2 separate regions of the Homo sapiens genome follow, and region 1 is linked to region 2. Evidence: fine-mapped QTL for protein levels in blood plasma. A gene starts in region 2. The other region holds a variant in brackets. All regions are shown on one strand. Distances are between the middles of the regions.

Region 1 (11,294 bases), 23 kb before region 2:
CCATCTCTTTACTTTCCTATAGTTATCTTCTAGACTGTGTCTTCTCCTTATCTCCAGTTTTCATTCTGTATTTTTTTTCTTTTTAGTAAGAGGAAATAACTCTACATTCAAATTTGAGCAGGGCACTTGGTGACCTACTTAGACATGACATTCCTTGGCCTCCCTTTCAGCAAGGTAAGGCTATATCAAAAAGTTATGTCCTGTAAGATGTGAGTAGAACTGGATCATGTCCCTTAAAAGGAAAGCTGCTTGCTATACACTTTCTCTTCCCTCTTCTTGCTGTCTGGCAAATGGCAAAAAGAAATACAGACTGGAAATGGAAGCCATGTATTAAGGAAGGCAAAGCTGTTCTCACTAGCCTAAGTCCCAAACTAATCTCAGGGAGCTGGGGCACCTCCTCCCTTGGATCAACCACAGACTTCTGGACCATTATGCAAGAGAAAATAAACTTTGTTCTTTAAAAAATCATTGTTTGTTTGGACCTGGTAGAGCAGCTTAGCCAATTCCCTAATTAAAACAGAGGGGCTCTGTCTATTTTATTCTCTGCTTAATCACCAGGATGTAAAACAGTACCTAATAAATGTGGTAAATAAAAATGTATTGAATAAATCCTAAAACAACGTATTTATTCTACATCCTCCTCCAGCTAATGTCCCTTTTTCAACTTTCTTTTCCACTCAAGCTTTGTGAAAGTATATATTTTTTCATATTGCCACTAATTCTTCTAAAGCCCCTCACAGGAATAAGTGACACCTTTCTCAGTCTTTTTGGAAACTGATTCCCCTTCTCTACTAAACCAAGATCCTTGCAGGTAGCAATCTTTTAGCATGGAACTTTGGATTTCCCTTAGCACCTGTTGCATAGGTATCCAAAAAATATTTACTGAGTTGAGTGAGTGCTTTGTATCTTTGGAAACAGTAAACCGTAGCAGAGAACTTGACAGACTGGTCTGAGATTACACTAGTTGCCTTTACTAAACATGCGTTTTACAATAGATCCTAGGGCCACTGTAGTTCAGTCTCGGTATTTTGTTTGTTTTTAATTTAAGCTTTTGTATTCCTAATAGGATTTTTTTATTGTTGTTTTTTTGAGATGGAGCCTCGCTCTGTCGCCCAGGCTGGAGTGCTGTGGTGTAGTCTCAACTCACCACAATCACTGCCTCCCAGGTTCAAGTGATTCTCCTGCCTCAGCCTCCTGAGTAGCTGGGATTACAGGCATGCGCCACCATGCCTGGCTAATTTTTATATTTTCAGTAGAGATGGGATTTCACCATGTTGGCCAGGCTGGTCTCGAACTCCTGACCTCAAGTGATCTGCCTGCCTCATCCTCCCAAAGTGCTGGGATTACAGGCATGAGCCACTGCGCTTGGCCAGGATGTTCTTTTTAAGATTCTTCATTTATGTTGTGGTGATCCAGGAGAGGATTTTTGTTGTGGTTTTAAAACCAGAAGGATTGCAGTTGAAGGACAGCGAATTTCTTTCTTATTTACAGCTGCTCCTGGCAGCAATTCAGTTACTACAGTACTGGAACATTTTGTGAAGTCTGTGACTGGCTAATCCCAATTCTTTTTATTTCCACATGCACAAAATCAGTCTGTACCTGAGAGCAAGTTTTGCTTTTAGATGGAGGCTGGGCAGGTATCAAGCTGAAATGAAGCCCTGTAAACATGTGCCATGGCTTAGGTAATCTTTTCACATAGGTTGAAGATCAGAAGATCAGAGATATCTTAAAATAATGGCCTTCAAAAACTTTTCTAGAATATCCCCAAATAAATTTTTTAAATCAATGCATTTCTTCATGCATTTTGGGATTACACCTAACATTGTCAAAACAAATTTACATAGTTGTCAAGTATATGATTTGTAATATTTTTTAAATCTTTAAATTATAAGCAAAACAGGGCTGGGTGTGGTGGCTCATGCTTGTAATCCCAGCACTTTGAGAGGCCGAGGCAGGTGGATCACCTGAGGTCAGAAGTTCAGGACTAGTCTGGCCAACATGGTGAAAGCCCGTCTCTATTAAAAATACAAAAATTAGCAAGGCATGGTGGTGCGCACTTGTAGTCCCAGCTACTTGGGAGGCTGAGGCAGGAAAATCGCTTGAATGCGGGAGGCAGAGGTTGCAGTGAGTCAAGACTATGCCACTGCACTCCAGCCTGGGCAACAGAGTGAGACTCTGTCTCCAAAAAAAAAAAAAAAAAAAAAAGTTTTTGGAAAAATTTGACAAAGCATATCATGTGAATTCAGATTTACCTCAATACCAAGAATTATGTTTAAATAGGACAAGGAAGATTTTTTAAGTTTTTATTTTAAGTTTAGGGGTACATGTGCAGGTTTGCCATATAGGTAAACTCATGTTATGGGGGTTTGTTATATAGATTATTTAGTTACTCAGGGATTAAGCCTAGTACCTGTTATTTTCCCTGATTCTCTCCCTTGTCTCACCCTCCACCCCTGGTAGGCCCTAATGTCTGTTGTTTCCCTCTATGCGTCCATGTGTTCTCATCTTTTAGCTTCCGCTTATAAATGAGAACATGCGATATTTGGTTTTTTGTTCCTGCATTAGTTTGCTAAGGATAATGGCCTCCAGGTCCATCCATGTTCCTGCAGGGGACATGATCTCATTCTTTTTTACGGCTGCATAGTATTCCATGGTGTATATTTACCACATTTCTTTTAACCAGTCTACCATTGATGGCCACTTAGGTTGATTCCATGTCTTTGTTATTGTGAATAGTGCCACGACAAACAGACATGTGCATGTGTCTTTATAATAGAATGATTTATATTCTTTTGGGTATATACCCAGTAATGGGATTGCTGGGTCAAATGATAGTTCTGTTTTTAGGTCTTTGAGGAGTCGCCACACTGTTTTCCACCATGGGTGAACTAAATTATATTCTCACTAACAGTGTATAAGCATTCTTTTTTCTCTGCAACCTTGCCAGCATCTGTTATTTTTTGACTTTTCAGTAATAGTCATTCTGACTGGGGTGAGATGGTACCTCGTTGTGGTTTTGATTTGCATTTCTCTAATGATCAGTAATGTTGAGCTTTTTTTTTTCATATACTTGTTGGCCACATGTATGTCTTCTCTGGAAAAGTGTCTGTTTATGTCCTTTGCCCACTTTTTAATAGGGTTTTTGTTTTTTGCTTGTAAATTTGTTTAAGTTCCTTATAGACGCTGGATATTAGACTTCCGTCAGTTGCATAGTTTGCAAAATTTTCTCCCATTCTGCAGGTTGTCTGTTTATTATGTTGATAGTTTCTTTTGCTGCACAGAAGCTCTTTAGTTGAATTAGGTCTCATTTGTCAATGTTTGCTTTCATTGCAGTTGTGTTTGGTGTCTTTGTCATGAAATCTTTGTCTATTCCTATGTCCAGAATAGTATTGCCTAGGTTGTCTTCCAGGGGTTTTGGGTTTTACATTTAAGTCTTTAATCCACCTTGAGTTAATTTTTGTATATGATATAAGGAAGGGGTCCAGTTTCAATCTTCTGCATATAGCTAGCCAGTTATCTCAGCACCATTTATTGAATAGGGAGTCCCTTCCCCATTGCTTATTTTTGTCAGCTTTGTTGAAGATCAGATGGTTGTAAGTATGCAGCTATATTTTTGGGCTGTCTGTTCTGTTCCATTTGTCAATGTGTCTGTTTTTGTACCCATACCTTTCTGTTTTGGTTACTGTAGCCCTGTAGTATAGTTTGAAGTCAGGTAGCATGCTGCCTTCAGCTTTGCTCTTGTTGCTCAGGAGTGCTTTGGCTATTCAGGCTCTTTTTTGGTTCCATATGAATTTTAAAATAGTTTTTTTCTAGTTCTGGGAAGAATGTCATTGGTAGTTTGATAGTAATAACATTGAATCTCTAAATTGCTTTGGGCAGTATGGTCATTTTAACAATATTGATTCTTCCTATCCATGAGCAAGGAACATTTTTTTCATTTGTTTGTGTCATCTCTGATTTCTTTGAGCAGTGTTTTGTAGTTCTCCTAGGAAAGATATTTTATTCTTTTTTTTTTGGTAATTGTGAATGAGATTGTGTTTGTGATTTGGCTCTTGGCTTGACTGTTGTTGGTGTATAGAAATGCTATTGATTTTTGTACATTGATTCTGTATCCTGAGACTTTACTGAAGTCATTTATAAGCTGAAGGAACTTTTGTGTAAAGACTATGGGGTTTTCTACATATAGAATCAAGTCATCTGTAAACAGGGATAATTTGACTTCTCTTCCTATTTGGATGCCCTTTCTTTCTTTCTCTTGCCTGATTGCTGTAGCTAGGACTTGCAATACTATGTTGGATAGGAGTGGTGATGGAGGGCATCTTGTCTTGTGCTGATTTTCAAGGGGAGTGCTTCCAGCTTTTGCCCATTCGGTATCATGTTGGCTGTGGGTTTGTCATAGATGGCTCTTATTATTTTGAAGTATGTTCCTTCCATACCTAGTTTATTGAGAGTTTTTTAACATGAAGCAGTGTTGAATTTTAATGAAAGCCTTTTCTGCATCCATTGAGATAATCATGTGGTTTTTGTCTTTAGTTCCATTTATGAGACAAATCACATTTATTGATTTGCGTATGTTGAACCAACCTTGCATTGCAGAGATAAAACCTATTTTATCATGGTAGATAAGCTTTTCAATGTTCTTCTGGATTTGGTTTGCCAGTATTTTGTTGAGGATTTTTGCATCAAGGTTCATCAAGGATATTGACCTGAAGTTTTCTTTTTTTGTTGTGTCTCTATGAGGGTTTGATATCAGGATGATGCTAGCCTCATGGAATGAGTTAGAGAGGAGTTCCTCTGCCTCAGTGTTTTTTAATAGTTTCAAGTAGGAATTGTACCAGCTCTGGTAGAATTCATCTATGAGTCTGTCTGGTCCTGGGCTTTTATTTTTTTATTTTTTTAATTGGTAGTCAGCCACTGATTCCATTTCCGAGCTTGTTATTGGTCTATTCAGGGATTCAATTTCTTCCTGGCTCAGTCTTGGGAGGTTGTACGTGTCCAGGAATTTATGTTTCTTTTAGATTTTCTAGTTTATGTACATAGAGGTGTTCATAATATTCTCTGACGGTTATTTGTATTTCTGTGGAGTCAATGGTAATGCCCCTTTTATTGTTTCTGATTGTGTTTATTTGGATCTTCTCTCTTTTATTTTTATTAGTCTAGCTAGTAGTATATTCTGTTAATTTTTTTAAAAACCAAACTCCTGGATTCATTGATCTTTTGAATGTTTTTTTGTGTCTCAATCTCCTTTAGTTCATCTTTGATTTTGGTTATTTCTTGTCTTCTGTTAGCTTTGGGGTCAGTTTGGTCTTGGTTCTCTAGTTCTTTTAGTTGTAGATGTTAGGCTATTAAATTGAGATCTTTCTAACTTTTTTATGCAGGCATTTAGTGCTATAAATTTTCCTCTTAACACTGCCTTAGCTGTGTCCCAGAGATTCTGGTACATTGTATCTTTCTTCTCACTAGTTTCAAAGAACTTCTTGATTTCTGCCTTAATTTTATTATTTACCCAAAAGTCATTCAGGAGTAGGTTATTCAATTTCCATGTAACTGTATGGTTTTGAGCAAATATCTTAGTCTTTATTTCTAATTTGATTGCACTGTGGTCCAAGAGAGTGGTTGTTATGATTTCAGTTCTTTTGCATTTGCTGAGGAGAGTTTTGTGTCCAATTATGTGGTCAATTTTAGAGTATGCACCATGTGGTGATGAGAAGAATATATATTCTGTTGCTTTTGGATGCAGAGGTCTGTAGATGTCCATCAGGTCCATTTGATCTATTGGTGAGTTCAGGTCCTGAATATCTGTTAATTTTCTGCCTCAATGCTCTGTCTAATACAGTCAGTGGGATGTTGAAGTCTCCCATTATTATTGTGTGGGAGTATAAATCTCTTTGAAGGTCTCTATGGACTTGCTTTATGAATCTGGGTGCTTGTATATTGGGTGCATATATATTTAGCATAGTTAGGTCTTCTTGTTGAATTGAACCCTTTACCATTATGTAATCCCCTTCTTTATCTTTTTTGATCCTTGTTAGTTTAAAGTCTGTTTTGTCTGAAATTGAGATTGCAACCCCTGATTTTTTTCTGTTTTCCATTTGCTTGGTAGATTTTTCTCCATTTCTTAATTTTGAGCCTATGGGTATCATTGCATGTGAGATGGGTCTCTTGAAGACAGCATACCAATAGATCATGTTTCTTTACCCAACTTGCCACTTTGCCTTTTAATTGGGGAACTGAGGCCATTTACATTCAAGGCTAGTATTCGTTCCTATCCATATTCTGAATTCTGTTTCTGTCATTTCAGCCATCTCAGCCTTGTTCAGAACCCTTGCTGGAGAGGTGGTGTGGTCATTTGGAGGAAAGAAGGCACTGTGGTTTTTTGAGTTGTCAGAGTTCTTGGGTTGGTTCTTTCTCATCTCTGTGGGTTGATGTTTCTTCAATCTGTGAGGTTGCTGACCTTTGGGTGTTTTTT[TC/C]TTTCTTTCATCTAGTATGATGACCTTGAGGGTTTGGTTGTGGTATAAGATGGATTCAGTCAACTGGCTTTGTTTTTGGAAGATTTTAAGGGGCCAATGCTGAAGCTCTCAACTCTTGGACTGTGTGTTCTCTCTCTGGGGGACTTGTATCGGGCCCTGATCTTGTTGTCTGGATCCTTGAGGTTAGGAATCCACTGTATGGGGGGTTGGGGTGGGGAGCTGAGGTGGTTCGGATTGCTGTTCACTACACTAATGGGTGGTGTTAGCCAAAGCATTTTGTAGTGCAGTAACACTGGGATCCATCCTCGTTCACACATGACAGCAGCAGTGGCAGTGGAAGCATAGTGAGGTATATGCTTGTTTGCTGCAGCAGGGTACAGGTGCTGGGATGCCTGCCTCCATGTGGGCATTCATCACAGCGGCAGAGGCAGCACCGCTGGGTGGGGGTCGGGGGGTCGCTGCTGGCAACTGTGCAGTCAGGCTGGTGGTGGTGTTAGCATGGGGGTGGGGTGCTGGTGGGCACAGGTCTGTGTGTATTCTCTGTGTGCTGCAGGCTAGGGTGGTCCCTCAGGGCAGGGGAGGATCCACTGTTTTCTCTGCCTAGTTTCACTCCCAGGGCAGTGTTGGCACAAGGGCAGGGCACTGGTGGGAGTAGGGCTGGCTGGCTGGCTCTATGCCTGCCAAGGCTCCAACTGCAATGGTGGTGGTGGTGGTGGGGAGGTGGGGTGGAGTGCATTCTCACTGCAGCAGTAGCAGGGCAGGGAGCTTGCACACACTGCACTGGTGGGTAAGGAAGGCAAAACCTGCGCATGCACATGTGCTCTGGGAAAGCAATGTGGGGGCTTGCTGTGAGCCTGGGAGAAACTGCAGTGTAGAAAGGGAGCAGGCAGGCTGGTGCATGGCCATGGGGGCCACCCCTCTGGAGCTGTCTGCCAGCCAGGCATGATCTGCCAGTACAGGAGCTGTGAAGTGGGCCCCCAGGGCACCTGAGGCTGCTCTGCAACCAGGTGTGGGGAGGCTGGGGCCCTGGGAGAGGCCAGCAGACCAAGAGGTGCTCAGGTTGAACTGGCCCCATTTGAAGGGCAAGATCACCTTGCAGAGTTCAGATCTTACAGTTTCCCTAGGGCTAAAGTCTCTTATGGGAGCAAGTTGAGTCTAGGGAGATGGGCTTCCCTGGCTGTGCTCCACTAAAGATGCTCCTGCACCAAACCGTCTAGGCTCTGCCTCAGCTGATGTGCTGCCGCTACCACTTCTCTAAGCAGCCTTTCCTGCTAACTCAAGTGTCTGTGCTGGTCAAGGGGGTCTCCTCCTGCTGGGATTCCAGAGGCCCATGGCAAGAACGGGTTGCTCCTTGCCAGTTCAATTCACCTGTTCCCCTGGTGTCACTGGGGCCAGGAACGAGTCTCAGTGTGTGGTAGCCTCATGCAGGGTTCCCAGCTTCTTCCCCCTTCAGCCCAGGTTCTGTGTCTTCCCTCCATCCACTCTAGGTGACTTCCCTCTGAAGATCTGTTAGACATGCCCCAGTCATCTTGGTTCCTTGGTGGCAGCTGTTCCACCTGGCTGTGTCCAGTCAGCCATCTTGCCCTCCCTCCAGAAATTCAAAAAAAATTTCAGGTAGAAAAATAGTTTGATTGCTTTGAATTTTATGTAGCTTTAGACTTTTAAAATGTCAGAATTTATTCACTTACTAAAAGTGATTTGGAAAATTATGCCTTTGGTTTAATTATTGGTAATTACACTGTCATTCTCTTTCCCTTGTGTATTGAACTAGGTCCAGAATTCAGTTTATGTAGACTCTGAACATGTTATGAGAATCTGATTGATGTTTGTCCCCTGTATTTAAAGATTAGCATTGGATTATTTCATGTTGCATGCCTGTATCAAAAGATTTCATGTATCCCACAAATAGATACACATACTATTTAAAAGAAAAGTACACCTTTTTAAAAAAGATTTTTAAAAATAAATAAATATTAACACTGGAATATTTCAAAGTTGTCAATGTGGATTGTCTCAACCAATAACCACTGCTTGATCTATATAATTAATTTTTTTAACAAAAACTTTATGATTAAGTTATTCTTCAATTGTAGGAAATTTTACATTGTTCTATTTTTTTCTCCTTGAACTTGTATTTCCATTTCACTCTTTCCCACTGGATTATTTGTTTATTTAAGAAAAAATTATATAAATATATAGCATCTACTATGTGTCAGAGATTTTAAATATAGACTCATTTAACATACTATCTCAGGTTAGGTTTCCTGGGAACCAGATTCTAAAATGGAGACTAGGATGTAGCATATTCATTAGGGAGTATTGTTGGGATCAGCACCTAAGGATGGGAGGAGGAAGAAGGGAGATTAGGCAGAGGGGGAGATTGAGCAGCTATGCAATGCCAAAAAAGGCCTCTGCCAGCCCATGGGTAACTCTGGAGTTGGACTGGTCCTTCAGAGTTGTCCTGAGTTGGGGGCTGGGACACAGGCCTTTATACTATTCCATTTATGTGGATGTGTCATTGAATGTGAACTGTCCCTTGGAGGAGGCATGATTTTGAGTGAGGCAATTTCCTCGGGTAAGGCAGTCCCCAAAGAAAGCTGACAGCTGAGGGCTGTCTACTGGCAGCACTTCCCACAGCTGAAGGAAGAAGTCACTAATGACCAAAGGAAAATCTGGAGGCGCATCACAGGGCTCACAACATCTTCATCACAACTTTATGAGGATAACACTTTTATTTTTCCTATTTTGCAGATGAGAAAACTGAGGCACAGAGAGGTGAAATAAGGTAGGCAAGCTCATACATTTCTTAAATGGTTGCGCTAGGATACAAACCCAGACAATCTGGCGCCAGCATTGTGCTTCTAACCACTGGCTCGTGCACTCTCCAAGGGAACTGCCTTTTGATCTAATTATATGCTGTCATTAAAATAATCTTTTAAAGCAGGAGTTAGCAAACTGTTTGTAAAGAGCCAGATAGTAAATATTTCCAGCTCCTCAGGCTGTGCTGCCTTTGTCACAACTATTCGATTTTGCTCTTGTAGTGCAAAGGCAGCCATAGATAGTACATAAACAAATAGCCATGGCTCTGTGCCAACAAAACTTTATTTACAGAAACAGGTGGCAGGCTGGATTAGCTTGTTGACCCGTTTTAGGAAATTATTTAAAGATTGAGAAAGCACTACGGTTTACTGTTACAGGAATGAAATATTACTGGATGAAATAATTATACTGATCCTAGCCTTATTTTAAAAGGGTAAGTTTTAACAGATTTCTCTGTGTGGTAGGTTTAAAAGTGATCATTATTTTCTTCATTATACTTTTCTGTGTTTTCTAAATTTGAATGTAATTGTTATATGCGTTACAATATAAAAATGTTTTTAATAAGAAAAAAATGAATGTTATTTTAAGAGTATAATTGGAGGGATCAGGATGCTAAATTCCATAATAGACACATCATAATCCTATATCCACAAAGTTAAGGTACAAATAAGATTCAAGCAGCATATCAGATGCCTTATTAACTGGAGCAGTTTTAGCATGACAACTGCAACATGGGCAATCCAAACATTTCCTGCCTTGCTCATTGCTTTTTTTGTTAGTAATTTGGCGCGTTTCTTCTAACGGGCACTGAGTCACTAAAGTAGCAGCTATCAAAATTGTTCTCAAATTGGCATCGTTAGTACCAGTAAAACCACAGTCATTTTACTGCCTGATCTCTACCCCTCATTGAACAAGACTTGAGTAAATCACATTTGGGATTTTGAAACAGATGATGTGGCTACATTCTGCCAATGTCTCTGCTCCCACAGCTATTGCCCTGCTTTAGGTCTTAATTACTCCTCAGCCAGACGGTAGTCTCCCCAGTTGGCCTCTGGCTCCCTGGTTCCTGCTCATTTACTCTAATCCTTTTCCTCTGTGAGGCCAGATTGATTACTCTGAAGCATACCTGAAGCGACCCTTTACTTAGAGCCTTTCATTGGTTAACATTCCCTATAGACCAACATCCAGACTCCTCAGACTTGACTTAAATGTCCGTGTTGCAAGTCATAATGGTTGAGAGATGAGAAAAAAAGTTGTATTTTCAATGAATCAGATTAACTTTATAATTAGACCCAAAGCAGTTATATAAACAGTTTTCTGTTGGTAGTAAAATAAGAAAAAGATTTTCAGAACAAGAACTGGGAGGTAGATGTTTATTAGACTATGAAGACAACGCATTGAGGACCAGGGTCATTTTGAGAAAAAGATTAGGTCACAGAAAAATCAAAGCATATGTGATTGGCCTGAGTCAGTAATTTGGACTATTTCAGATGTACCTTACATCTGTAAGGTACACATTGTACCTTACAATGTGTAACTGGAAAACCTTCAGATGGATAACAGAGTTGACTCACATGCTCTAAATCCTGGAACATTAGCAGCTCATTTGAGAAGCTAAGCCTGACTTTCTTGGCTAAGTATAATCATAACCCAAGGAAGCAATGAAAGAGGGAAAAAACCCAGAAGCATAAAGAGAACCAGAATTAGAATCAGGACAGGCATGATGTGGACACAAATTTACTTCCAAAGTTTTAGCCTTTTAATGACTTTTATACTATTCAGTTTTATAATCATTGTTCTATTGGCATATTTTGTCCTCTCTTTGAAAAATATTTCCAAGAGTCTCCTACTTTAAACTTGAGAAGAGGGATTCAGTTTGCAACAGTGCTTAAGAGAAATCTCATTTACTAAATTAATAGATGTTAAATGTGTTGTATAAATGAGGTAAGTATATGATAATTATTTAAAGATTAGTAAATTACATGTAATGGTGAATATTTCTCT
Region 2 (11,294 bases):
AACCCAAGTAGGTATTGTGTTTCTACAACTTAATATTCATGCAAATGATGATATCTACCTATATTACTGGCTATGTTTTGATTAGGGATCAGTTATTGAAGTAGCTGTAACAATCCCCAGCTACTCAGATAAACCTGTCCAAACCTGGAGGAGAAAGTTTTTCAACCCAGGGTTCGAAGAGGTGGTGTTCATTGCCTTTAATGGCCCAGGCACTAAGATTTACACAGTGAGAGGTGAGACTCTTTAATGTGCTGGGACTTAGCCCATGATGATTTGTTCTGAGCCATTTGCCACTAAAGTTAAATCCTTATAAATATAAATTATTAGCCATACAGCTTCCTTTTTCTCCTGCTCAAGCACAAGCCTGGATAGCGCAAAGGCCTAAAAATTTTCTAGGGCATTTAGAGATAATGAAAGATGGCCACTTTGATGCACAAAGACCTAAATTTTAGTCCCTCACTGATTAATGATTTGACCTTTGGGTGGGTCTTAATATCTGTCCTCTATTTTATCAACTGTGAAATGGCAGAATTAAATAAAAGTGGTTTCTAAGTTTCCTTCCAGTTCAGAGATTTAACACTATTGTTTGTCCCCAATACAAGAAAAGTTTAAATACCAATCAGTGGTTATCAAATAATTCACCAAGATCTAGAATAACACTGTCTAATATCTGAAAGTAAAATGAACTAAGTGAAAAATAGAAATATTTTGCCATTTAAAGCAGAGTTTAGTCAAGGTATAAATAGATCTGATCTTTCTCTATTTGTAGGCTCTGCATGAAAAAGTTAAAACTGCTCTATCCATTGACCAAAGAAAATAATTAAAGAAAAATATTGAACATTCAAACCTATGATAGGACTAGATCAATCTACTTTCAGATATTTCTTAGAAAAAAAATTGTAAAACTTTCCAGATGGCACCTTGATTTATTTTTGGTCTAAAATAATTGCATTTAGTCAGGAATAAACAACATGGAAAGAAGAAATATTAATATTGAAAAAATATTTTAGAGAAAGAGATTAATAGTCATAAGATTGGTATAACGGGAATTTAGCCTGTCACTGTAGCCTATGAGGCACTGTGTGTTGCAAATGTGACACAATTATTCAAGCTGGGGATTGAATGACAAATAATGAAGCAAGAGATCTTAGGGAGTAAACGATATAAAAGATAATTGAGTCCGTGTTGCTGTACCCCGAAACTGCTCTAAACCATAAAGTTTATTAAATAATAGTAACAATTGAAAAATAGTAGAGGGAATGTGGAAGGATCAACTCAATCAGAATTTGGTGAGGGCATAGGAACTGAAGTCACGCTGTTCCACATTTAAGCAATGCCACATCCTGTATTTTATTACCAATGATAATTTTTATTTTCTTATTGTCTTTGAATGCTTTTAATCTTTCCCTTTGTTGACAAATAAGACCAATACAGTTTTGGTGTTTGCCATGGTTTGCATATTTGCCCCCTCCAAACCTCGTGTTGAAATTTCATCCCCACTGTTGGAAGTGGGGCCTGATGGGAAACGTTTGGGTCATGTGGGTGGATCCCTTATGAATGACTTAATGCCATCCTTGCGGTAATGAGTGTGTTCTCTCTGTATTAGTTCCTGGGGGAGCTGATTCTTTAAAAGAGTCTGACACCTCTCTCCCTGCTCTCTTGCTCCCTCTTACCATATGATCTGCACACGCTGGTCCCCTTTCACCTTCTGCCATGAGTAGAAGCAGTCAATGGCCCTCACCAGAAGCAGATGCTGGTGTCATGCTTCTTGCATAGACTGCAGAATTGTAAGCCAAATAAACCTCTTTTCTTTATAGATTACTCAGCCTTAGGTATTCCTTTATAGCAACACAAAATGGACTAAGACAGTGTTCCTCTAATTACTGATGAAGGAGTTGAGAGAATGCCTAGGTCATATTCTGGGTCCAAGGATAATGAATCCCAGAAATTTCAGAGCTTTGGGGCAGGTGTTAGAAATTCTACTATATCAAGCTTTTCTACTGACAAAAAGAAGAAAGAGAAAGAAAGAAAGAAAAAGAAAAAAAGAAAGAAAGAAAGGAAAGGATCTTCAAGAACAAATTTCTTCAAATCAGGTACGAAGGTCATTAATTTCTTCCTTGTTAGTTGGTAATGTTTTTTTTTTTCTACTCTAGATCAGCAGTGTGGGAGGTGGCTAAAATAGGGAGAAGCTTGTGAAACTATACTATGCCTTAATCTTGGTCAAAATATATAACTTTGATTTGTTACCAGCCTTTTTTTGTGTGTATTTCTATGACTTCATGCAGATACAATTCTCTGAAATATGTAAGTCCTAGCAGACTTGTCTCTTTTTAAATGATTCTAGGACCCCAAAATATCATCACCACTGAAATTAAGATGTTGGCACTGGTACTAGAATCAATAAACACAATGCAGATGCTACTATGGTAGCATATTAAAAGAATTTGAAAAAGTTGAAAAAAGATTTTCATCTAGCAGAGCTTTGGAGAAGAGCAATTTATTGTATCACAGACCTCAAGTGACTGATAAACACTAAAAATTACTTCTAATAATCATTTATTTCACAAATATGACTGCTTACTCTGGGCTATTTATAGTAGTAACAATGAAAATAGTGTGCTATATTTCTTCCATAAAGACTTTTACTACAAAATAACTGTCAGAAGGGCATGGGCTCCACGTTGCCTTTTTCTAGTCATTATGGTTATCCATGCTCTCTTATTTGTTCTGGTGTAAGTCCAATAGCATACTAATTCAAGACCATCTGTTGGGATTAAGATTGTGGTGCATTGTTTCTCTGGGTGCAAAACTAATTGTCTTTTATAGATTGATGAAACTGAAGATTTTATTTTGCATAATCTTCCCAATTAATTTAGTGCTGATTTTCACGCTTGAGAATGAGAGGTGGCAAATCTTTGGTTTGAGTTACCCTATTTAATGTTGGAGAATGAAAGGGAATGGATGACTAAGTTGGACTCCAACCTCCCACCAACTTTAATCAAAACAGCTCCAAGGCAGGAGGGCTTTAGTCCATTTCCCCCATCTAGGAATCACCTGTTTGCTTCTTAGTGGCATTATTATTCTGCATGTTTTTAACCTGCCTCAGCAAAAAGAGAGTTGACCTGAAAAGATGCTACTTCCTTGTCTCTTGATTCTCATCTTACAAAAGTAAAAAGTGTGACTAACACCCATAGGCTATCAGGTAAATACATGGTTGTTCCCTAGGAAATTCCGTTGTTATTTCTGCATTATACCCACCGTTTCTTCTTTCTGTTACCAAAGCCTCACAAAACTTCCTCAGTTCCTCGAAACCTGTTTTGTGAGGAGGAGACAGTGAAAACACAGACGTTCGCATAGATACTTAATGATGCAGTAGTTGTTATAAGTGAGGCTCACAGGTCTTACCAGCCTGAGTTAAAAGTTCATTTTGCCATTCTCTGGTTTTAGTATGACAGCGGACAAGTTACTGAACCTCTCTCTGCCTCCATCTTGGAAAAATTCGAATTCTTACAACATCTACTAAGTACAAGGGGTCCTGGAATAATATTTTGTTCAATGTCATTTTGTTATAACATTGATGAGAAAAAAAATTCAATTCCTGGGCCAGGCTCACTGTGTGGAGTTGACATGTTTTCCCCATGTCTGTGTGGGTTTTCTCCAGGTCCTGGAGTTTCCTCCCACATCCCAAAGCTTTGCCCATTAGATGCATTGGTGTGTCTACATGGTGCCTGTCTGAGAGAGTGGGTGGGTGTATGAGTGCCCTTTGACAGTACTGCATCCTGTCCAGGGCTGGTTCCTGCCTTGTATCCTCAGCTGCTGGGACAGGATCTGGTCAACCGTGACCCTGAACTGGAATATGCAGGTAAGCAGTTATCTTGTTTTTATCAATCTTTCATAAATGTATATATAGCTTAGATTTATTTCAATGTTTATTATTAGAGGTGTTTTGAGTATTTAGAGGTTTAGTGATGTTTTTGTGACTAGGAATATGCCATAAGAGCTTAACTCTTATTTATATCAATTAGCTCTTGGGAAAATTGTCTTCATTATCAATTGTTTCACTTTATGTCACAGTTTCCAGAACCTACAGAGGACATTAAGTGAGGACTTACTGTATATAGGTGGTTGTGCTTGTGAAGGATTAAATGAGGTAATGTGTGTGAAGCACTCAGGACAGTGCCTAGCACCTGGTAAGTGTCCATGAATTGGAGGCTATTATTGCTGTAATAAGGAAATTCATACACATTAAAATGGCTAAGAAAGTTCATTTTAAATAACCGTAACATGCACATTTGTATTGCTTTCTCGGATGATCTTGCTATTCTCTATTTCAGAGGAAGTCCGTGGAGAAGCCTGCCTGTTAGCTGTCTAGGGGTCAGGTGGCTTCTTGGCAGTATATATTACATGATAAACATTGACTTAATATGGACCATAACCACAAGGTAGAAAATAGGGAAACAGGGAGTGGAAAAACCACAGTGATCCTTTCCTAGAGAGAGACCAAAATATTAACCGCTGTAAACCTCTCATGTTACAGTTCGAACACATCTTAATAAATGATTAAATCTACTCTCTCATTTCATAAGTGGGGAACTGAAGCCCCCATAAAAGTTAGGGGCAGAACTATGACTATACTCAGACCACTCTTTCCCTGTATATTATATATACCTTTTATTATAAAAAATTTCAAAAATCACAGAAATACAAAGACTAGAACAATGCACACCTATGTACTCATCATCCAGCTTTAATAACAATCAAACTGTTACCTCTCTTAAAAAAACAGCTTTGATTCTGAGTCTGGTGTCATTTATACTCCTTCACAGAGATGTTCAGAACCAGTATCTTAGAGCACATCCCCCAGGCAAAGAAATGTAGCAATAAAAAGAGAAGGACATAGCATGAGAAAAAAAGGCAGGCTGTCAACCAATGCCTAAAATGTAGAAAGTTCTCTCAAGTTGTTTTTACAATAGTCTGGAAAACACAGTCTCATTCTGAAAGGACACTGTTCCTTTAAATTGCTTACTGATCCCACCCAGATCTTGCACCCTGGCCAAATGCCTGACCACTCTTGCTTTGACTTAGTCGAATAAACATGAACAAAAGACTGCAAAAGATCCTAAAGCAAAGACACTTTTATTTCCCACAGAACAGAACAATATCAAATAGCTAACTTCACCCCCAACCACAGTCCTTGCTGTTGGCATTTACTCAACTAGTCTTTAATTCCTGTTTGACAAACTTTATAAGGTAAGACATAACAGATTTATTTTAGTCACTTGAAATCAGATAGGACCATCAAGGAACTGTGGAAGACTAAATGACTTACTTACATAATTATTAGGTGAGAAAGCTTGTCAATAGTTTGTATTCTCTGCAATTACTTCAAATCAATTATTAGAAAAATATTAACATTGTTAAAATGTAGAAATTTAAAACTTAAAATTATTTTGAAATGGATTTTTAATTTACAGTCTTCTAAATTGTTTTACAACGATGTTAATATATTTTAGGACATCTTTTTCTTAATTTGGAACAGGGTTTACAATTCAGAATTAGTTATAGAATACTTTACAACTTGGCTAATTTGTCAATTTGAATAAAGTCTTTATTCAATCATTTTCTATTTGTGTAGAAACTGAGATGCAAACATTGTAACTAAAGTTGGTGAACTCTGATATAAGATCATTTTATTTTTGAAAAATTATAAAAAATAAAGTATCTTGGATTTATTTACTGATCCTGATATTTACCCCAAATAAATTTTAGGCCAAAAGTAAAACTACGGTATTTGATTAATAATTATGATTGTTTCTGCATTTATAAAATGTAACCTATAGTAAACACAGAGGTTCACATTTCTTTCACTTAACTAATGGCACTGTTTCCTCTGAAACCTATTTTGCTTGTACGTGACATCAGAAAGAGAGAAAGGTGAGAATTATTAAAAACAGAGGCAAAATAAAACATGGTAAAAAGTGATTAGAAATGAGTGGGCTCTCAAGATGCCAAATTAATAAACGAGAAAGATATTTCAGGGAAGCAGTAGAACTAACAAGCTAGAGAAACAAATCTAGAGAGGTATGAAAATGTCCTCTGGCTACAATAGGGAAACAGAAAGAAATAACAAGACTTTGGTTTGGGAGAGCTAGATTAACAATGTCAGAGCAAATAAGAACAAAATATGAGATACTGGGATTATTGTCAATGGAAAAGTTATGTTTGTGAATATCATATATACAGGGATCAGGTACAAATTCATGATTATATGCCAAGAAAACAGTAAGAGCAGGTGCTTAGTTTTGGGAAAAGATAAATCTTTATTTAAAGCCAGTATTTCTAAAACCTTACATGAAGGGTTTTGAAGAGTTGCTTGATTATGTTGCTTATAAAATCTTGCTCAGTTCTCAATGGAATTCAGTTCTCAGCCTCTTATTTCCAGAACTTCTGAGATGTTCCTTATGGTATGAACTCAACCAAAGAGAAAAGTCATATGTAATACCATGGCCATGGTGTTATTCCCTTTCCCCTTTGAAAATGCAATAACAACTGTGTTTTTCACATAGCCTTATCTTTACACTAACCTTCAGACTTAAAGTTGTACATCATTTATTTTTTTCCTTGGTTAGCAAAGGGACAACTTGAGGAGAGATGGCCTTTGTGTGTTCTGTTTCCTTAGCACATTTCTTGGTTTTGTTTTGTTTTTAATACCCAGCTGTCTTTACATTTTAGTATACCTTGTCTGAGGATCAGTTGGCATTTGGCCAATTGCTACACAAGATGTTTGGTCATACCTATCCAAAGTTCTTTTAATACACTTCCAGCTGGATGATGCTATGTGAGGAGCAGACTGTGGCATGAAGCCATCCATTGGTCCTCTCCTAACCCAACAGTTTTGTTTCCCTTTGGGGTTTATCCATCTGGCATGTATGAAAAAAGTCAGTCTCCATCTCACTCCTCACTGCCTTTGCATATATTTCCACTCTCTACTCAGAGTCTGGAAAAATCGTGCTCATGATTTCCCAGATTCTTATCCCCTAAAGGCAAGGTGCCAAAGAAGGAAAATGTGATTCCTTTTCCAGAACTCCTGAAGTCAATAAAGTTTCAGCAGGCAAGCATTTTTAAGCCATACTAAGTATTGATTCGAAATAAGCTTTCTCGTTCCCATTCTCTTGGGTATACTGAGGCAGCAACACATGAGTCTTCTCCTCCCAGGGAAATCTGTCAGTTTAAGAGTCAGTTGGTGTGTAGCTAGGCATATTGACTGATGAAGATTGAGGATTTTAATACAGAATTAGATTTTTCGTTGTTAATCCACCCAGAAAAATAGTTTCACGGGGCTATTCAGAGGGGGTGCTTCTTGGCTTTAAGTCCCGTTTCTGTCCATTAGTTCTTTTAGCCATCACTGGAAGAAGAGTGTTGCTTTTAAGCAAATCTATTATTTTTGCTCTCATACTCTTTTGATTCATTGCATATGCAGCTTTGAACCCCTGGTGGAGACAAAGTTTCCAAAGCTAGGGTAGAAAAGAGAGATGGGGTTCTATGGAAACAGAAGGGTCGTTTAATTTTTACCTTGACCTCTGAACTCACTGAAGTTATGTGTGTAGTATTAAGCCTGAAAGGGTGGTGGTTGTCTACAGTTCTACAAAATACTAGATTTGTCAGGAATCAGTTATAATGAAAGTGAATGAAATGACCATATAGCAATCTGAATTCCCCCTGAAGAATTTGGAAATGTCAAAGCAGACCCTGTGATTGAACCACAGTAATCATATAGAGCGGGATTGAAATGTTTTTAAATGGCTCTCCCAACTCTATGCTCCTCAAAATACAATGCGGAATTAAGAATACTTAAATATAGTTCTTTGAATATATAGAAATATTCACTAATAAATGTTTGGTCATGGTGCCATGATTTATTTGGATTGAAATCTTTCAAAATCTCAATGTGAATATTTTTCTAGAAATATGAATGAAAACCTCTTTTTTCCAGTCACATGCCAGTTTTCAACCCTGCTGGCTTGAAATTTAAAAATAACAAACACCATATTTTATTAAAGTATTTGTAACTGACTTTTCTATTAAAGGTGCTACAAGACAGATGATTTTTCACCATCTACCATAATGTGGAACAGATATTTTGTCTTCTATCTCCTGCTTTTGTCAGCGTTTACGAGTCAAACAGTATCCGGACAAAGAAAGAAAGGACCAAAATCAAATTTGCTTGCAAGGAAAAGTGATGTCCAGGGTAAAAAAAAAAAAATTGTTTGTTTTTAAGTTTAGCCTGTTAAAAATACTTATGTGAATTTTTCTAAATAGCATTTGATATAAATAGCAAGCCATATACATGTATACATGTGATAGTCTACTTTGATAAAATTATATGATGATAATATACCTTACATACTTATAGCACATCAGAGTCTTTAATAAGAGCACTTGTGCACTTATTATCTCATTTGAGCCTCACAGTAACCTTGTAAAATAGGCAGGACGGAGATTGCCACTCATAGTGTAGATTAAAAAAATTGAGGTCTTAACAGGTCGAGTGGCATACTCAAGGCCATAGGCAAATTAACCACTGAGACACAGAGCTGGGATTTAAACTTAAGTTGTGTTTAAGTTAGGTTTCTTCTCCACTTACTCTTGGTATAGGGGGTATAGTCATTTTCTCCCTTGATTTCAAGAAAGTTTAAAAAAAAATAGGGACTCACCAATATGACACAACCTGAGAATTAGAGTATCATTTACTTCTAGACAACTATGCTCAGTGTTAGTTGGATTTTTAAAATGTGATGCATCTTGACTTCCCATTTCCTCCCACTTTCAGCAGGTTTAACATTGAAAAGATGCTCAGAATAAAAGATATCTTATTTATTTTTAATTTGCATGATTTTACAAGGAGAAAATAATTCATAAACTTAGACATTTAGTTTTTTACAATTGAAGCCTTCTGTCCAACGTGTCTCTCTTTCTCTCCTCACGCTGCTCTCAACACCAAACAATATACAACACACCACTTCAGGGCTTTCCGTATGCAAATTTGTTTCATGATAGGAATAATTATTTTGCCTAACCTGTTTATTCTGTTTCAGGCTCCATTTGTTTCATAGATATTGTCTTCATCGTGGACAGCTCTGAAAGTTCTAAAATTGCCCTCTTTGATAAACAGAAAGATTTTGTGGATAGCTTGAGTGACAAGATTTTCCAATTGACTCCTGGTCGCTCCTTGGAATATGACATCAAACTGGCAGCCCTTCAGTTTAGCAGCTCTGTCCAAATTGATCCACCTTTTTCTTCCTGGAAGGACCTGCAGACATTTAAGCAGAAGGTCAAGTCTATGAATTTAATAGGGCAAGGTACCTTCTCTTATTATGCCATTTCCAATGCCACTAGGCTACTTAAGAGAGAAGGGCGTAAGGATGGTGTGAAAGTGGTTTTGCTGATGACTGATGGCATCGACCATCCAAAGAATCCAGATGTTCAAAGTATTTCTGAAGATGCCAGAATTTCAGGAATATCATTTATCACCATTGCACTTTCTACGGTAGTCAATGAAGCCAAACTTCGTTTGATTTCTGGGGATTCATCCAGTGAACCCACTTTACTGTTGAGTGATCCAACCCTTGTAGATAAAATTCAAGATCGTCTGGTAGGTACCTAATGGGTTGATTATACAGTTATCATCATAATATTGACATATTTGTTGTAAATCCCATAAGAAGAGATACTGGGTCAAAAAGATGGAGAAAATGAGAGTTAACACTGAAAACAGAAAGAAGAATCTTTCTGAAGTGTCACTCCACTTTCTTGGCAGTTTACTCCAGACAATCTGGAAAAGTTCCAGGCTAATTCCCTGGAATTGCATTTTTAACTTTATTGCTAGCTGATGCTGAGGATTTTGGAAGGGGTTATTTTCCAATCATATACCTTAAGCTCCTGTTTATACAGCCTACAATCATGAACATTGCTGACTTATATTCAGGTTGTGCTCAACTTGAGGTGTTAGGCTATATTTGTACCAAGTTGGTCTTTTCCCATTCCACATCTGTACAGGTATTTTTGACATAATCTTGACATATTCTCTCTTACTCTTCTAAAGGACTGAGTATTTTTGACTCTGTCTCACCTATTGTTACATTATGCTACTCAAAGTTCATAGACTTCCAATTTTTAAAATTACCTCCTTCTTTCTTAGATGTTCTCAAGCCCATCCAATTTAAAATCATCTGCAACCTGCAGTCAAGCAACAGTTTCTCCCATCAAATCAATGAGTCCCACTTGATAGGTCTGGTCAGCTTTTCTTTGTTTGTTGCTCAGCTGTGTATAAAAGCCTTTCCTTGCTGCTTTGTAAAACACACGGCACCACAATCAAAAGGAAATCCCTCTTCACAATATTTCTCAAGGAGAAAACGCCTAGAGATAAATTGGTTGATTGGCTGAGTGTTAAAAACTGATTTTCTTAAAAACTTGGATTTCTTTGATTTCCTGAGAAAGGAAGGCAAAGGTGTCCTTTATGTACTGAGCGTTTCATATGGCTGTTTTCTACAGCTTGCACAGAAAACTCAGGCTCTATTTCAGAGATTGTTTTGCTCCTTTTGTCTTATCCCTCGATCTTTTTCTCAACATTACTCTTATCTTTTTACTCTCTGTTGCTTTCAGCATAAGATCTGAGGTTTTCTTACCTAAATAATAGCTCTTAGGTATTGAGTACTCTCTCTGTATTAGGCATTTTCCTGAACACTTTATATATTTTATTTTATTCAATGTTTGCCACAATCTTATGATGTAGGTAATGTTATTATACCCATTTTGTAGTTGAAAATTTAAGGCCGGTGAAGACCTCACAGTTTGCATGCTTAACCCTATAAAGGCATATTGAGAGAGGAAATAGTAACTGCTTTTTAAAAAAATATTTTCTCAATCAGAACTGCTCTGAAACAGTTTGGTAGCAGCCCTCCTCCAAAGTTACTATTGTTTCTAGCCTTTTTTTCCTTGGGGATTCGGGGTAAATGGGAGAGTTATGCCTAGATCAGAGATAGAGCTGATGGGCCCAGTCCTGTGGTGCTCAAGGTAAGTACTCATTCTGAGCAGCTCTTTTGCATGAAAGGGAAATTTGTAGTGGTTCCTGGCTAACACTTAGCCCTGCCTGTGCCATGACTTAAGGGGTCCTCACCACTGAACATAAAACAGAGGGCTCCAGCCCGTGTGGGAGAGAATCCTGGTGATGTGGTCATGAGTGGGCTGTTGTTACTTATTCATCTTCACCTTAAGATGGATAAGAGCTGACCATA

Which allele goes with the higher level. Positions count from the first base shown, and alleles are read on the strand shown. Strength reflects both the effect of a copy and how common the allele is.
With allele TC in place of C in region 1, the plasma level of the protein whose gene starts at base 5,127 in region 2 is higher (weak association).

Evidence for each region. PIP is the chance, under the fine-mapping model, that this variant and not a neighbour inherited with it causes the effect. The UK Biobank Pharma Proteomics Project read protein levels with antibody pairs (Olink). The fine-mapping took linkage between variants from a reference panel, not from the people measured, so its PIPs are less certain.
Region 1: its variant is fine-mapped to the plasma level of the COL28A1 protein (UK Biobank, PIP 0.99).

Annotation. Positions count from the first base shown.
Region 1 is chr7:7,553,117-7,564,410 of GRCh38, reverse strand. It overlaps MIOS-DT (MIOS divergent transcript), which reads left to right. Exons shown (of 5, transcript NR_110084.1): 2 at 87-174; 3 at 9,222-9,255. Among named protein-coding and RNA genes, the nearest start is that of MIOS-DT, 7.3 kb to the left of the region's middle. RefSeq lists enhancers at 6,602-7,101, 7,102-7,603. The variant TC/C (reference allele first, on the strand shown) is at 6,470.
Region 2 is chr7:7,529,706-7,540,999 of GRCh38, reverse strand. It overlaps COL28A1 (collagen type XXVIII alpha 1 chain), which reads left to right and starts at 5,127. Exons shown (of 35, transcript NM_001037763.3): 1 at 5,127-5,250; 2 at 8,088-8,248; 3 at 9,096-9,652. The coding sequence starts at 8,125.